Regions from separate parts of the Homo sapiens genome. Here region 1 is linked to region 2. A link means that fine-mapping ties the variant in region 2 to the expression of a gene that starts in the linked region. Tissue or cell type: whole blood. Region 2 holds a variant in brackets; the other region holds the start of a gene. All regions are shown on one strand. Distances are between the middles of the regions.

The links. PIP is the estimated chance that this variant, and not a neighbour inherited with it, causes the effect.
Region 1: it holds the start of RAI1, and the variant in region 2 is fine-mapped to the expression of RAI1 in whole blood (TOPMed, PIP above 0.99).

What each region holds. Positions count from the first base shown.
Region 1 is chr17:17,677,725-17,685,826 of GRCh38, forward strand. RAI1 (retinoic acid induced 1) reads left to right here and starts at 3,734. Exons shown (of 6, transcript NM_030665.4): 1 at 3,734-4,069. RefSeq lists silencers at 3,455-3,964, 3,995-4,134, 4,195-4,274, 4,286-4,458, 4,445-5,394 and an enhancer at 3,775-4,376.
Region 2 is chr17:18,318,437-18,326,535 of GRCh38, forward strand. It overlaps SMCR8 (SMCR8-C9orf72 complex subunit), which reads left to right. Exons shown (of 2, transcript NM_144775.3): 2 at 4,181-8,099. The coding sequence ends at 4,634. Among named protein-coding and RNA genes, the nearest start is that of SMCR8, 7.2 kb to the left of the region's middle. RefSeq lists silencers at 3,053-3,245, 7,288-7,397 and enhancers at 3,757-4,258, 4,259-4,758. The variant G/A (reference allele first, on the strand shown) is at 3,719.

The DNA of each region.
Region 1 (8,102 bases), 640 kb before region 2:
GATTATCCAGGTGGACCGGAATGGAATCACAAGGGTCCTCATGAGCAGAGGCAGGAAGGTCAAGGGAGGAAGTAGAAGCTGGGACAATGGAAGCAATTGTTTTCTTGCCTGTTCTAGCTTCTGGAGGTCACCAAGGGGTCACAAGCTGAGAAACACAGGCAACCTCCAGAAATTGGAAAAGGCAAGGAAGAGATTCTCTCCTGGAGGCACCAGGAGAGCTAGCCCAGCCCACACCTTGGCTTTAGCCCAGTGAAACTGATTTTGGAGTTCTGACCTCCAGAACTGTAAAGAATAAATCTGTCTAGGCTGGGCAACATGGTGAAACCCACTCTCCACAAAAAATACAAAAATTAGCTAGGCTTGGTGGTGTGGTATGTGCCTGTGGTCTCAGCTACTTGGAAGGCAGAGGCACGAGAATCACTTGAACCCGAGAGGCAGAGGTTACAGTGAGCCAAGATTGCGCCACTGCACTCAAGCCTGGGCAACAGAGCAAGACTCTGTCATAAATAAATAAATAAATAAATAAATAAATTAATTAATTAATTAATTTGTGTTATTTTAAGCCACTTGTGGAATTTGTTACAACATCCCTAGGCACCTGGCACACAGTAGGTACTCAAAAGTGGCAGTTCTGGTCAGGCGTGGTGGCTCACACTTGTAATTCCAGCACTTTGGGAGGCCAAGGCAGGAGGATCACTTGAGCCCAGAATTCAAGACCAGCCTGGGCAACATAGCAAGATGCCATCTCTATAAAAAATAAATTGGCTAGGCATAGTGGTGTATGCCTGTGGTCCCAGTTACTCAGGGGGCTGAGGTGGGAGAACTGCTTGAGTTCAGGAGTTTGAGGCTGCAGTCAGCTATGATCACACCATTGCACTCCAGCCTGGGCAACAGAGTGAGACTCTGTCTTACACACACATATACACACATTCACACTCACACACAAAAGCAGTTGTTAGTACCTTGACCGCACACCCTCTTCCATCTGCCTGCATATTCCTTCCTCCTCTCACTCTCTGGGACACCCATCCCCTTTGCAACCCAGGGCTCCCTTCCTGCCCATCCTCTGAGGTCTGCCTCAATCGCCACCTCCTCCAACCCTTCGCTGAACTGACATCCAGAAATGCTAATCCCTTGAACAAATGTGCTTCCTTGAGTGGTGCCTGAGCTATGGCTCCCAAAGAGGCCAGGCTTGTGATCCTCTTTGTACCCCCAGCCCTGCCTACAGGGTCCAGTGGCCCCAGTCATGTAAACTTGATACCAAGGAATTTTCAAAACAAAAAATACCTAATTCCAAGGCCAGAAAATTGACTCTCCTTGGGGTTCCAGCTGGTCTCCCACCCTCTCCAGGTGGAGAAGCTAGTCTTGGGGACCCTTGTGTGGGAACCAGAAATCTCCCAGCAAGACCTCCTTGTCTTGCCTCCCACTGGGGTCCCTAGAACCAGCCTTCCCTTAGGCTCCACTCAGGAGCAGGTTAAGGTAAGGCAGGGAGGGCAGGAGACCAGCTCGGGGTGGAGATTGGGAGCCCTGGATGGATGATAGGGACTGTTCCCATTAATCTAGCATCTTAAAGCAGTAATAGCACTTACTGCATGCCAGGCTGTGAGCTAAATGCTTTCCACACGTACCTCATTCAATCCTCTCAACAGACCCATGAGGTAGGTACTATTATCCCCATTCTACAGATGAGGAAACGGAGGCTCAGCAAGTTAAGTAGTTTGCCCAAAGCCACCCAGCTGGGCATAGAGGAGCCACGTTTAGAAACCAGATTTGCCAGGCGCGGTAGCTCATGTCTGAAATCTCAGCACTTTGGGAGTCCGAGGCAGGTGGATCACCTGAGGTCAGGAGTTCAAGATCAGCTTGACCAACATGGAGAAACCCTGTCTCTACTAAAAATACAAAATTAGGTGGGTGTGGCGGTGCATGTCTGTAATCCCAGCTACTCGGGAGGCTGAGGCAGGAGAATTGCTTGAATCTGGGAGGCAGAGGTTGTGGTGAGCCAAGATCGCACCATTGCACTCCAGGCAGGGCAACAGGGGCAAAACTCCGTCTCAAAAAAAAAATACATAAATAAATAAATAAAAATAAACCAGATCTGTCATCCAGAAACCGCACTTAAAACAAGCTTAAAACAACACAGTTCGCACTGGGATCCAGCTCTGTCTTGCTCTTGACATTCACCCTGGGAGACGGGTAGCCAAGTCCAGTAGGAAGGACTGTGGGGACCTGTGTTGATTCTGTCCTGTAGCTTGAGAACCTGGACAGGGGACTTCACCACTCTGCGCCTGTTTCCTCATCCACAAAATGTGATGAGCCGACCTCACAGAGGGGGCACCAGGATCTAATGAGACCATGCACAGAAGGGGCACAGCAGGCCTGGGACAGAGTGAGGGCCCCCCATCTATCACAATACCTTATTTTGCAGATGCAGGATTCACTTGTCCCAGGTCACCCACAAGCTCTGATGCCTTGACCAGCTCCCCTCTGCCCTACCAAAGGACAAATGAGGGAGGCTTCGATGGGGCTGTTAATGGGGTCATATCCCACAGACCCTAGAGCCTGGGTGGGGCTGAGAGGCTTCCCAAGCAGGTGGCAGTGAGCTCCCACCTGAGCTATGGCAAGTAGAGACCTAGGCATGAAATTGCTCCGAGGTCTGTACCTTAAGTTTCATGCAAGGACTCTCTCATTCAACATGCCTCTGTTTAAAGTCTGCCAGTGGCTACCTTCCTTGCACTAGAATTGCAAACAAATTCCTCACTGAGCTCTCTGCAGCCCTGCAGGCTCTGGCCCTCCCGATATGGCTCTGACTTCAATGTGCCCATTACTTGTCCCCTTGCTGACGGCCTCCTCACAATTCCACTTACTCACCAAGTTCTCTCCTGCCTCAGGACCTTTGCACTTGATGTTCTTTCTGCCAATGATGCTCTTCCCAGGAGGGCAGGCCCCTGTAGTCCCAGCTACTCAGAAGGCTGAGGTGGGAGGACTGTTTGAGGCCAGGAATTCAAGTTCGGCCTGGGCAACACAGCAAGACCCTGCCTCTAAAAGAACAAAATGCTCTTCCCAGACTCTACCCATGGCGGTTCCTCTTGCTATTTAGATCTTTGCACAGACAGGCCTCCTTCTCTCTCCCCCAGCCAAGGAGCCCTAGCCGTCACTTCACCTGCTAATTTTCGTCCTAGCACTTACTGCTCTAAAATTATCTTCGTCATGTATCTAAGCATTTGTTTGCTGTCTGTCTCTTCCCACCAGGATGCCAGCTCCACGACAGCAGGGACCGCATTGTCTCTGCTGATTCCTCAAGACTCAGCAAGGTGCCAGGTGCCCAGTAAATGAAGTTTACATGAAGCCAATGGAGTTTTGAAATCGAAAATGTTTCTCAAACTGCAAAGAAGTGGGCACAGGTGAGGGCTAATGGTGGGGTGAGGGTGGGGGCCTGGCCTGACGCTGGAAGCTCCTGTACGCAGGGCGCTAGTGTCCTCCCAGGCCGCACCGGGATCCCACCGCAGAGGCCCCCTCCCGCAGGCCGGCCAGCGGGCGGGGGGCGCGCAGTGGGGCGCGCGGACCGCCAGGGGGTGCTGTCGGGGCGCGCACGGCCCACCTGGCGCCCGGGGCCGCGAGCGAGCGCAGCCAGGCCGCCCGGGAACTTTTTTCCTCGCGCTCTTGCTCTCCTTCTCCCCCCGCGCGTCGCCCGCCCGCCCGTCCGCTCGTCCGCTCTTCCTGTGCGGAGGGGATCGCATTCCTCGCGGCACCCGCGGACACCAGGCAGGCCCGGCCGGGTGCGCGGCCAAGGCCCGCTCCCCGCGTCCCCGGGCGCCGCCCCCGCCCGCGGCTGGGCTCCGAGAGACGAGTGGGAGAGCGAGTGCAGCGAGGGCGAGAGGCGAGCCGAGCAGGCCGCCCTGCCCGCGGCCCTAGCGCCGGCGCGAGGAGGGGGCGCCGCGGCCCACCCTCCTTCCTGCCTGGCCGCGGGCCGGCCGGGCCGCCGCGCCCCGACCCCCATGGCCACCCAGGCCTCCGGGCCGCGAAGTCGCAGCGCCAGACCCAAGGCCCCCGAGTGAGCGCGGGCGCCGAGGTGAGCAGCGAGCGCCGGGGCGCGGGGGGCGCAGTGTATCCTGCCCCGGGGCGGGGGCGGCGCGAGGCGTCGGGATCCTAGGCCGGGTGATGAGCCGAGGCGGGTTCGGACGCCGAGCGCGCGCGCTGGGTGGAGATGTGGGGTCCGCGGGGTCCTTGCTTTGTGTGGTGTGGGGGGTGCGCGAGGTCACCGGATGGACGTCTGGGGAGCTGCAGGGTGGGGGCGCCCTGCGCCGCGGCTGAGGGTCTTCTGGGGGATGTGCGGCCAGCTGAGGTCGGGTGGGGGCATGGGGGCGCGAGGGGCGAGTGTGGCAAGGGATCTGCTTGCGCCGAGGCGCGGAGTCTTTGCGGAGCGTGGGGTGGGGACGTGGGGTGCATTCGCGGGGCGCCGGGGGCGGAGGTGAGCTTTGTGAGTGCGTCCGAGGTGGGGGACGGGGAGCTGACTTCCCCATGCGTGACCCGGGCCCGGCGTGGCCATCGCTTGGGAGTCAGGGCCGGCGAAGGCCGTGCGTGGCGAGATGGGTGCTCGGGCTCTCTGCGGTGTCCCTACCCGGGCAGCGGCCCCGGGGCCTGTGCGCAGGCCCCGAGGCCGGGCAGGAAGCGGCCCCCGCGACCTGGGGAGCTCTGTAGCGGCCAGGCCCGGGAGGCACGGGCCCTTCGGGGATGACGTCACGGGCGGGGGCCCCGGACACGCGAGCCTTGCGCCCCACAGACGGCGGCGCAGCCCGCCGCCCTTTTCGAGGCCGGCCCCCCCTCTCACGCGCCTTGAAGGCAGGGAACCCGGGAGGAGGACATGGGGGCCGAGTGCGGCGGGGACAAGGGGTGGCAGGACGCGAGGGTGACATTTGGAGCCTGGTCGCGCCAGGGGCCTCCGTGGTGGGGCGGAGGGGAAGCGAAACACCAGCCAGGCCCTAGGCCGTCGCGGCCCCAGCTTCCTGGGGCGCCCGTTTTCCCGGCTAGCAGTTTTCTTTCTTGGGGCTCTTGGTCGTTATCCAGTCCACGCAGGGGCCGGAGTGCGGGCTGCCGCGGTGCTCTCCTGCGCGGAGCCCGGGCTGGCGGGGGCGCGGCGGGCCTCGGGCTCTGAATGGATGGGAGCGAGTGTAACAATGCGCCGGTGGGGGCTGGGGGAGGGGAGGCCGCGCGCCTGAATGGCGGAGCCGGCCGGGCGCTGCTCCGCGCGCCGCACACTCTCCCGCGCCGCCTTCCCCGCGGTTTCGGCGGGCCCGGATTCAGGGACCCACTCGGGATCTGCACGGTTCCTCCCACCAATACTGTCCCCCGCCCCCCTTTTATGTCTTTCCAATGCAGTAGTGTGTTGAGAATTCAAGGGCATTACATCTGGTTGCAATCCAGTTTCATGCCGCTGCCGGGCTGTTAAGACCTCGCGCTGACGTCAGAGCAGGGGAATTACTTCTTTTTATTTTATCTTTTTTTAGTTGTCTGCTGCCCTGGGAGGAGAGGCGGGGGTGGGTTAGGCTAGCTCTGATGTGGAGGCGCCAGCGTGATGGGAGCCCCGAGCTGGGGGCTCTGCTTCTCTTCCTGCCCCTGCCCCCCTCCATTCTCCATACAGTCCTCGCTCTGCTCAGGGTCAGGCCCACCCCAGGTGGGGGGCAGCCCTCGCTGCAGACTGAATGGTGGCCCCTCCCTGCTGACCACACAGCTGGGTTTTCAGAGGCTTTCCTGGGACGTGGCCCTCGGGATCTAGAAACTGGAAAGGAATCTTCTAGTTTCCCACCCCTCCCCCTCTTGACAGGCAAGCCGGTATATTCGGGGCCCAGGAGCAAGGAAAAGTGGCCTTTTGCGTGACACAGAAGTGGACACATCATTCTGATCTCAGGGCAGGCTCAGCCCCATAACTCTGGCAAAAGCTCTCACAAGCAAAAGCCTTGGAGAGGAGGAGAATGTATCAAGGTGAGATCCAGGCCCCAGAAGCCAACTGTGGAGTGGGCAAAATAGGACCTTTCCCACCAGCCTAGCATCCCTCTGGCTTCTGTGGAGATAAAGGGAACTCAGGGGTACTGGAGCTGCCTTTCTCTTCCACTAGACTGTGGGGCTCTCATAGGCAGGGACCCTGTCTTACTCCTCTTTGTTTTATTTTTGAGACAGGGTCTTGCTGTGTGGCCCAGGCTGGAGTGCCTTGGCACAAACACAGCTCACTTCAGCCTCAACCTCCAGGGCTCAAGCGATCCTCCAGCATCAGTCTCCTGAGTAGCTGGGATCACAGGCGCCCGACACCACACGTAGCTAATTTTAAATTTTTTTTTTTTTCTAGAGACAGGGGTCTTGCCATGGCTGGTCTTGAAGTCCTGGGCTCAAGCGATCCTCCCTCTTTGGCCTCCCAAAGTGCTGGGATTACAGGAGTGAGTCACTGCACCCAGCCTTACTCCTCTTTAGACTCCCAAGCCTAGACCAATTGCTTTCAAATTCTTGCCCGTGACCTATAGTAAGAAATACATCGTAGGTAACTACACAGGTCACACTGTATATAGCTGAAACAAAAGTTTACTGAAATAACTCCCTTACTGTGTCTGCTGGTCTGTAATCCTTTTTGTTCTTGTGTATTTGTTTTTTTTTTAATTACTGATTGCTACCCACGAAATTAATTTTGCAATCCACTGATGGGTCATACCCAGAATTTGAAAAAAACAAGCCTAGGAAATGAATTTGCCATCTATTCATGCAACAAATGTTAATTGCAACCCTAATAATTCCTCTCATGTTAAACTACTCAAGTAACACTTGGATACTTGGGTGAAAAATGCAAATAAGCCAGAAATATATGTAGTAAAAGTAAAAGTTCCCTTGGCACCCTCCCTGCAGGTAACCCCAGTTAATAGTTTGAACGTATCCTTCCAGACTTTTTGTTACTCACTTAATGCATATATATATATATATATATATATATATATATATATGTATGTATGTATGTATATTACATATACCAATCCATGCATAGTTTTCTTTTTCCCCAAGTGAGGACATACTGTGGGCTCTTCCTCGGCAGCTTCCTTTTTCCTCTCCGTTTGTCTTGGAGAGGTTGGTTGTGTGGCGAAGTCCTTCAGGGCAAGTTCTGGGTTGACTCCTGGCTCCACCACATACTGAACAGGCCATTTACCTCTCTGTGCCTCAGTGTCCCCATCTTTACAATCAGGAGAATAACAGTACAGACCTCACGGTACTGAAGTAAAGATGCAGTGAGTTAATCCATATGAAGTTTAGAGCAGTGCTTTTGCCAATAAATGCTGATTGCTGCCGTCATTGTTGTATTGTTATTGCTGTTCTATCTCCATGGCAGCCCATGTTTGAAATGCATTGCTTTCCACAGCTGCCTGTGGCCATGGCATGGGTGTCTTTTTCCTCCCCTATCCAACGTGTGGCTCCACAGGGAGGGAGGAGGTGCAACAGCAACGGTGTGCGCAGAGCAGCGTCTCTGCGGGAGAGGCACCTGGGCACTGGGCCCAAGGGAACAGGGATTTTCCAAGGACCCACTGTTTCCAAAGTTCTGTGCTTAATGTCGGGGTCCAAGCAGGAAGCATCCCTGCACTTGACCACAAGAAGGTCACAGCCCAGTGGGTGATTGGGACCCAGCTCATAGCCAAGGCCTCGACCAGAGCTGGAGGCTTCCTGGAGGAGGGGCCTTTGAGCAGGTGCTTCAGGCACGGCGAGGTAAGAGTGAGAGGAGCATTCCTGGCAGAGGGAACACAGTGAGCAGAGCGAGTCTTTGGAAGCTGGAAGGGATGTGGCCTGTGTGCTGTAGCCAAACAAGAGGGGAGGACTTGGCTCAGAAAGAATGGTGGCGGAAGAGGTTGGGCTGTTGCTGGGACCTCCTCACTGGCCTCCCTGCCTCCATCCTGTCCCCTCCCAGGTGCTGGCCAGCAGCACTGTCAGAGCGATCGTTCTAAACCCAGCAGATAACCTCCAGTGGCTCCTGCTGCCTTATGAATAAAGGTCCCATCTGTAGTTCTTCCCATGCTGTCCAGGGCCATTTCTGGTGTCCTCTGCCTGCCCTGTCCTCATTCAGTCCTGTCCCCTCC
Region 2 (8,099 bases):
CTTGTACCCCAGGCTGGAGTGCAATGGCGCGATCTTGGCTCACTGCAATCTCCGCCTCCCGGGTTCAAGCAATTCTCTTGCCTCACTGTCCTGAGTAGCTGGGATTACAGGCGCCTGCCACCACACCCGGCTAACTTTTCTATTTTTAGTAGAGACAGGGTTTCACCATGTTGGCCAGGCTGGTCTGGAACTCCTGACCTTAGGTGGTCTGCCCACCTCAGCCTCCCAAAGTGCTGGGATTACAGGTGTGAGCCACCGTGCCTGGCCGGAAAGTTTTTAAAATCATGGATTCCTGAGTCACAAGCCCTCGAGGTTCTGATTCGGTTGGTGTGAGGTAAGACATGGAATTTATCTGTCGCCATTGCCAGCCCGACTGCAGGGAGCATCTCTCTATAAAAGCAAAAGGCCCATCAGAAGGGACAGATGACTCCGGGGGAAAGGGTTAGGCTGCTGTCCCTGTAAGTGCTCTTTCAACCTTCAGAGCACGTGCAGATGTTGGGTGCTGGGAGCATCTGCCTCCAGCATCCTACACAGGCATGAGGTGCAGCGGGCAGGTGTGGGGAGCCCTGCACCCTGGAGGGTCCCCTGCGGGGCCAAACGGGAATGGGATGGGCTACAGCTCACCCAAAGAATTCCTGGGGGAGGTGAGCAGTAGACGCCACCTGAGGGTATGATAAGATGAAACTGTTGTGGGCTGTGGCAGTTAGCGGGAGCAGTGGGTGGTCTGGGTCAAGTCCTGGTGTGCCACCACTCGCTGTCTGGATTCGGACCAACCATCTCATTCAGTCACCCAATCATGTTGAACACCTCTGAAGGGCTCCCGGGGCCCACCTGAGAGCCATCGGAAGGGTCCACGTTTAGTGCATGTCCAAAAAAACACAGCACAGTGCAGTGCTTGGCCCTGAGAAGCACTCAGAGGGTGGAACCGGCACCGACACAGGCAGGCAGACTGGGGCCTACCTGAGGCCCAGCTTTAAAAATCACGAGCAGGAGAGATGTCTTCGGTGGTTGTGACCTTCCTATCCTCGGAGGTGTTGCGCTGCAGAGGCTCTGCACTCTGAGCACCACGGCCCAGAAGTGTGCCTCCTCACTCAGGCCCACTGCTCACATGATGGACTCTCTTTCAGGACTCTCACCTCCGAACACCAGTCTTGCTGGCCCTTGATTTTTTTCACTCTGCCTGGAAATGCTTGTAGTTGGGTCAGCCATCTGTGGGGATAAGAGATGGCTAAACAACCAAGCTGGTATCCTGTCATTTGCGGGTTTTTTTGTTTTGTGTGTTTTTTGTTGTTGTTGTTGTTGGAGACAGAGTCTTGCTCTGTTGCCCAGGCTGGAGTGCAGTGATGTGATCTCAGCCCACTGCAGCCTCTGCTTCCTAGGCTCAGGTTATTCTCGTGCCTCAGCCTCTCCAGTAGCTGGGATTATAGGCGTGCGCCATCATGCCAGGCTAATTTTTGTATCTTTAGTAGAGACAGGGTTTCACCATGTTGGCCAGGCTGGTCTCAAATGATCGGCCCACCTCAGCCTTCCGAAGTACTGGGATTATAGGCGTGAGCCCGGCCCTGCTGTCATTTTAAGTGAACACCAGGGGTCATCCTATTGCTTACTAAGCAGCAGTCACAAGCCCAGACCGAAAAGCAGAGCACAGTTCTGCCTGGAGAAAGTGCTAGCCTAGCGTGTGTCAGAGGCCCTGGGTTGAGTCCTGGCTTGACCACTTGCTAGCTAGGTGACCTTGCACAAGCTGCCGCTTTACCCAGTCCTCTGTGTCCTCATTGGTGGAGAGGTGTCCTCCTGCGGCGGGCATGGTAAGTGCAATGTGAGGCTGCAGTTGGGGTGCCGTGCGCTTGGGGGCTGGAGAGCTGAGGCTTGTCCCTTCCCGTGTCATCTGGCCTCCTGAGGAGGAGCTTTATGGAAACAGAAGTGGAGGAACAGTTAGAATAGCCAGCTTCTTCCAAAAGAAGTGCCACCATTGGGGCAGGTGTCAGCTGCATCAGGGGATGCTGGGCCTGGGAACAGGTATCCCAGCAGAGACGGAGGGGCAAAAAGGTGGGAGGTGAGGCCTGGGTGCCCTGTGGCGGCAGCACCTGTGGAGCTGGATGTGCGGAGCTTGGGAGGTGTTTGACTCTGGCCAGCCCCACTTTAGGGAGGTGAGGGTGAAGGCGTTAGAGAGCTGAGAAGGTCCCGGAACACAGGGGCCATGCAGCATGGGTTGAGGAGAGCGTCTCACTGCCCTCATGAGCTTTCTTAGCTGTCAGCCACCTGCAGGCCCCAGTTCCTCCATGCCTGTGGGATGCATGTGGTCCATAGCCCAGTGCTGTCCCTATGGTCAGGATGCATGCAGTATGCATGGCCTGTCTCAGCTGTCCCATCTCTGTGACCTTGCTTTTGCCGTGGTCTGCCACACCCTCCTCAGTCCCTAGAGCCCACGCTGCTTCTGAGGGCCAGCTCTGAGGCAACTCCACGAATCCCCCAGGTCTTCCCAACTACAGCCTCTCCCAGGGAGAATGAGACCTTGTCTCCCTTCACTTCACTGTACTTGTGCACATTTCTTTTTTTCTCAATCAGACTGAGCTCATGCAGGACAAGAGTTCTAGGTCATTCTTCATTACAGTGTTAGCTCCCAGGTCAATGTTGGGATGTTATAGATGCTCTGTAAATGATTGTTAAATATACAAGAAGATAAAACCCAGGAAGGAAAAAGTACTGTGAGAGTACCTTGGTCCCAAGTCACCGTCAGTCCTTCTTACACCATACCTGTCTGACGTAAACCCTAAATGTCTGGGCCCTACAGGGCAGTCCCTGCTGCTCTGGGGAAGCTGCTTCAGGAGGGTGTTTAAGGAACCGCTCCCCTCACTGAGTGAACACTGGCTTTTCCTGGCTCTGATGTGCCAGGCATTGGGGGCATGAGACCAGATCAGGTGCAGTTCTGGGACCCTAGAATCTTGGAGCTGCTTGTCCAGTGGGGAGAAGCCAATGAACAAACAGCAGTCACCCCACTGGTCAGTGCTAGGCTAAAAGTAGTGATGGCGATGACAGCAGCGCCTACCGAGGGCCAGCATTGTCCTAAGCACAACTCATTTTGTCTCCACAGCGACCCCATGAGGGATGTAATAGTAGTAACTGGCCTGTACAGTGGCTCATGCCTGTAATCCCAAATCTTTGGGAGGCCAAGGCAGGAGGATCACTTGAGCTCAGCAGTTCAAGACCAGCCTGGGAAACATAGCAAACTTCCATCTCTACAAAAAATTATCTGGGTGTGGTGGCATACGCCTATAGTACCAAATACTTGGGAGGCCAAGGTGGGAGGATTCCTTGAGCCCAGGAGATGAAGGCTGCAGTGAGTCATGATCGTGCTACTGCACTCCAGCCTGCGCAACAGAGCAAGACCCTGTCTCTAAATAAATAAAAACAGTAGGAATGTTATCTCCATCTTATAGGTGAGGCTCAGAGAGGTTAATGAATTTGGCCAAGGTCACAGCAGGAAAGCAGGAGAGGATCAGGGAAGGCTGAATATGCTTTAAATTAAGCTAAGTACAAGAGAGAGAGGTTATTTCAGGCAGAAAGAAGAGGTTTTTTTGTTTGTTTTGTTTTTTAAGACAGAGTCTCGCTCTGTTGCCCAGGCTAGAGTGCAGTGGCACGATTTTGGCTCACTGCAAGCTCTGCCTCCTGGGTTCACAGCATTCTCCTGCCTCAGCCGCCCAAGTAGCTGGGACTACAG[G/A]CACCTGCCACCACACCCGGCTAATTTTTTGTATTTTTAGTAGAGACAGGGTTTCACCGTGTTAGCCAGGATGGTCTCGATCTCCTGACCTCACGATGCGCCTGCCTCGGCCTCCCAAAGTGCTGGGATTACAGGTGTGAGCCATTGCACCTGGCCTGAACAAAGAGGTTTGTAATTCTAAGGCCCCACTGAAAGCTTGCCATGGCTCCAAAAAAGAGTCCATTCAGCAGGAATCGGACCACAAAGGGCTTTGTGGGCCACCCAGCGTGTTTTTGACCTTGGTCATAAGAGTGGTGAGGAGCCCTTTGAAGATTACAATGATCAGATTTGTCTTCCAGGAAGAGCCAGTGCATGCTGGCTAGGTGGATGCTGGCCTGGGGACAGGAGGCCTCACCTCCCAAGCTTCTGCCTCCACTTTCCCGGCCCTTGCCCTTCCTCCTGACCTTGGCCTGTCTGTTTCAGAGTGGCCTCCCCTGCCGGTGCCGGTACCCTCCATGCCCTGAGCCGCTACAGCCGCTACACGAGCATCCTGGACCTTGACAACAAAACCCTGCGCTGCCCCCTTTACAGAGGCACCCTGGTGCCCCGCCTGGCAGACCACCGCACACAGATCAAGCGGGGCAGCACCTACTACCTGCATGTCCAGAGCATGCTCACCCAGCTCTGCTCCAAGGCCTTCCTCTACACCTTCTGCCACCACCTGCACCTGCCTACCCACGACAAGGAGACAGAGGAGCTGGTAGCCAGCCGCCAGATGAGCTTCCTAAAGCTGACCCTGGGTCTGGTGAATGAGGATGTTAGGGTGGTCCAGTACCTGGCTGAGCTGCTGAAGCTGCACTACATGCAGGAATCTCCAGGGACCAGCCACCCCATGCTCAGGTTTGACTATGTCCCCAGCTTTTTGTATAAAATCTGAGGTCGGTCCCAGACACTGTGACCAAGACCTGTGACTCAGGGTATGGGGAGGGGAGGGGTTGGCATGACCAAACAGTTGCCTGAGCTGGACTGTTTAAGTTTCTGGTGTCTGGCAGCATGGTTCCCACGTGGCTCCTAGTAGTTTTTAAGTTGGACATGGGCAGAAGTGGAGCCTGGCTCCCTCTAAAGGCGTCTGGAGGGATGGTGACAGCTACATTTGGCTCCCTGGTGAAGAGTGGCCCCTGGATATGGAGGGGGCCTTGGTTTTCTGAGGACTGGCAGCCAGGGCAGAAGGGAAGCCACCAGTCCCTTGGTGGGGCAGGGTGAGGGCAGGAAGGCCAAAGCCTGATGGGAGGAGCACACTGGCTGTATTCAGCATTGCCGGACACTTGAGTGGCAAAATGAACGAGGGTGACAGCCAGGTAACTGTTGTGGTTTGGTGGAAAACAGGAGGGCAGAACACCCATCGCCTCCTTCAGACCCAGATGCAGCCCTTTATTTGCTTCCTGGAGCCCACTGTCCTAGGGGAGGCCCTGGACCAGCCAGTGGGGGTGAGAAAGGCTGCCACCCTCTGGGTCGTGGGAAACATGCGACCTTGGCCTCAGGGCCACAGAGCGTGAGCAGCACCCTGTCCGCTGTCCTCGCCACCTTTACCTGGGAGAGAAGTGCCTGTGAGCGGGCCTTGGGACTCACTCCCCATACTCTTTCACCAGGAACGAGCAGAGTGTTCACTAGTCCTAGTGTGAAGCGGGCACAAGTGACCAAAGCCAATGGTGAGGACCACCTTGGGGGCTGGAGAGCACAGCAGGCAGAGCAGGGCTGAGGCGCCATGAGGCCATCACCACCATGCAAGGGAGGAGCAGCCAGCAGCTCTCCTGGGTGGCCCACTGGCTCCTGCCGGCCAGAGCGCATGAGCACTGACCTTCCTCGTGGGGAAGGTCTGCAGACCCGTGTGAACATGGCAGAGGCCACACTCCAGCTCCCACCCACATAAACCTTTGCAACCACTTCACTACCTCTCACTGGGTCTCGTGGGCTTGGGACAGCAACGGTTCTGTTTAGTCAGCTGGTGCAGGTGGTTGGCCCAGCCGATGAGAACTCAAATAGCACGGATTTCCTGGATGAGCTACCACGTGGCGCTCTTCAGGTTCTGCCTCTGGGAGGCTGTGTGCACCTCAGTCACCACAGCTCACGGCCGTCCCCAGTTGAGTCCCCCTTCTGAGGACAAGTTTGAAACTGGGAAGGAGACACCCCCTGGTTCCGCCAGCACCTATCCCACTGATAGTGATCCCCTGGCCTCCCCGAGCCTCCTTAGGCAATGGCCACTGGTTTGTAGACAGAGAGTTTCTTGCAGCCTTGAAAATTTTATTCCCTAAGTGGGGACAGCTCTGGTATTACTGCTTCTTTAATTTGTTCCACAAAAATTATGCTGAAATGGACCTGAATCAGCCCTGGGTGTGCTTCTGTTGGCGCCTGCTGCTGAGGCCCGGCCTGCCCATCGGCCTGTAGTACGCCATCGAGGTCATCATGGAGCCAGCCAGCTTCTCTTCTCATCAAGGAGGCAGAGACCCCTGGTGGAAGCCAAGAGTGACCGAAGAGGGCTTGCATCACGTCACTCCAGTGGTTCCCTCCTTGTCCAAGTCCTCGTTTTAAGGGCATGGCCCGTTGGCTCCAGCCGTTGGCTTCTGTTCAGGGTCCTTGCTCCCATCAGAGGTGTTTGATTTTGCTCCTGGGGCTGCGATGGAGAACCTTTTGTGGCAGATGGTGCTGCCTACATCTCATTGGTTCTCTGTACCTGTGCCCGTTGCGCATGTTCACAGACAGGAGAGTCGCCAGCAATACCTTGGCAGCCTTTAAATGTGAAACGTCTGTTACTTGCGCTGGAGGCAGAGGCTGTGCAGGGAGCCTGCTTCTAATCGTGGGCTCCCTTATCTGTTACGGTTCCCTCCCCTCCTGTTCTAGATGCTGATTCGTTTTCTCACTGGCTGGTTAATTGCTGTCTACTTAGGCCTCCAAGGCCATAACTGTGCAACATTTTATCTGAGAAGGAAGGAAGGTCAGAAAGTGATCACTGGCACCACCACTGTGGCATTCCTGTCACACCAACACAGAAATTCACAGCTCATACTGTTCTCACCTGGGAAACTTGGGAAGGGCTGATGAGTTTGGGGCAGATCCTGAATTGCAGCCACACTTGGCCTTCTAGAAGCTGAAGTTGTGCCCTCAAGTGGTCCTAAGTAGAAGTCCACTTGAGGTATTTGCTGGCACACACCCTCAAGGGTGGTTCAGAAGGTCCTGAAACCTAAGGCAAAAGGCTGCTGGGGCATGAACAGAACAGACCGTCTCAGGGGCAGCCATGTAAGTGGCAAGCAGGGCTGGTCTCCCTCAAGGTGGTTCTTCATTAAGTAAAGATGGCTTCGTGACTAGTGTTTAGCTCCCAGATTTATATTTGGGTTAAAAACTAACTTTTCAATGTGGCAGTTTCAAAGGATTACTTGATGCAAAGTATGTTTCCTTTCAAAGGGATCTTGACGTGGTACCAGGACTGAGTCATGATTTGGGCAGAGGCAGTTAACACTGGGAAGCCCTGCCCCTCCCTATGCCCCCTTCACTCCGGGGAACTGAAACCTACTCTGAGTCTCACATCTCTAAACCTCAGTGCTGAGACCTATGCAGTGGGACTAATCTCATCAAGAATTTTCAGTTGAGGCCGGGCGCAGTGGCTCACGCCTGTAATCCCAACACTTTGGGAGGCCGAGGTGGGCGGATCACCTGAGGTCAGGAGTTGGAGACCAGCCTGGCCAACATGGTGAAACCCCATCTCTACTAAAAATACAAAGAAAGTTAGCCAGGTCTGGTGGTGCGTGCCTGTAATCCCACTTACTCGGGAGGCTGAGGCAGGAGAATCACTTGAACCCAGGAGGCAGAGGTTACAGTGAGCCGAGATCGCGCCACTGCACTCCACCCTGGGCAACAAGAGCGAAAACTGTCTCAAAAAAAAAAAATTTTTCATTTGAGGTATTCTTCCAGTAGAAGGTTAGTAAGTTTTTAATGAAACCATTAAAAATTACACTTCCCAGAAAATAGATGACATCAGTGCCCCTTGCTACTTTCTCAGTCCTCACTATTGCTTTGAGGGCCCAGGTACTGAAACTGGTTGTCTTGAGTTTTGTGTCAGCTTTTTCTCCAGTCCATTATCCCCCTCCCTTGCTTCTGAAGCAGTCTAGGTTAAACTAGCCAGGCAGGTAGTTGTGGACTGGTGATTTTCAAAAGCCCCACTTTAGAGATCAGGCCACAGCTTTTTATATCGCACAGGACACATCAGCCTGAGCTGCTGCCTCATGCCTGTTTCCCCAGGAACCTCACTCCTTTGGTAGAACCTTGGGATTTTAGAAATTGTGGCTTTTCCATAACTCATTTACTCCAACAGTTGAAGTTACACACATTGCTCCCAAATTTGGAAATA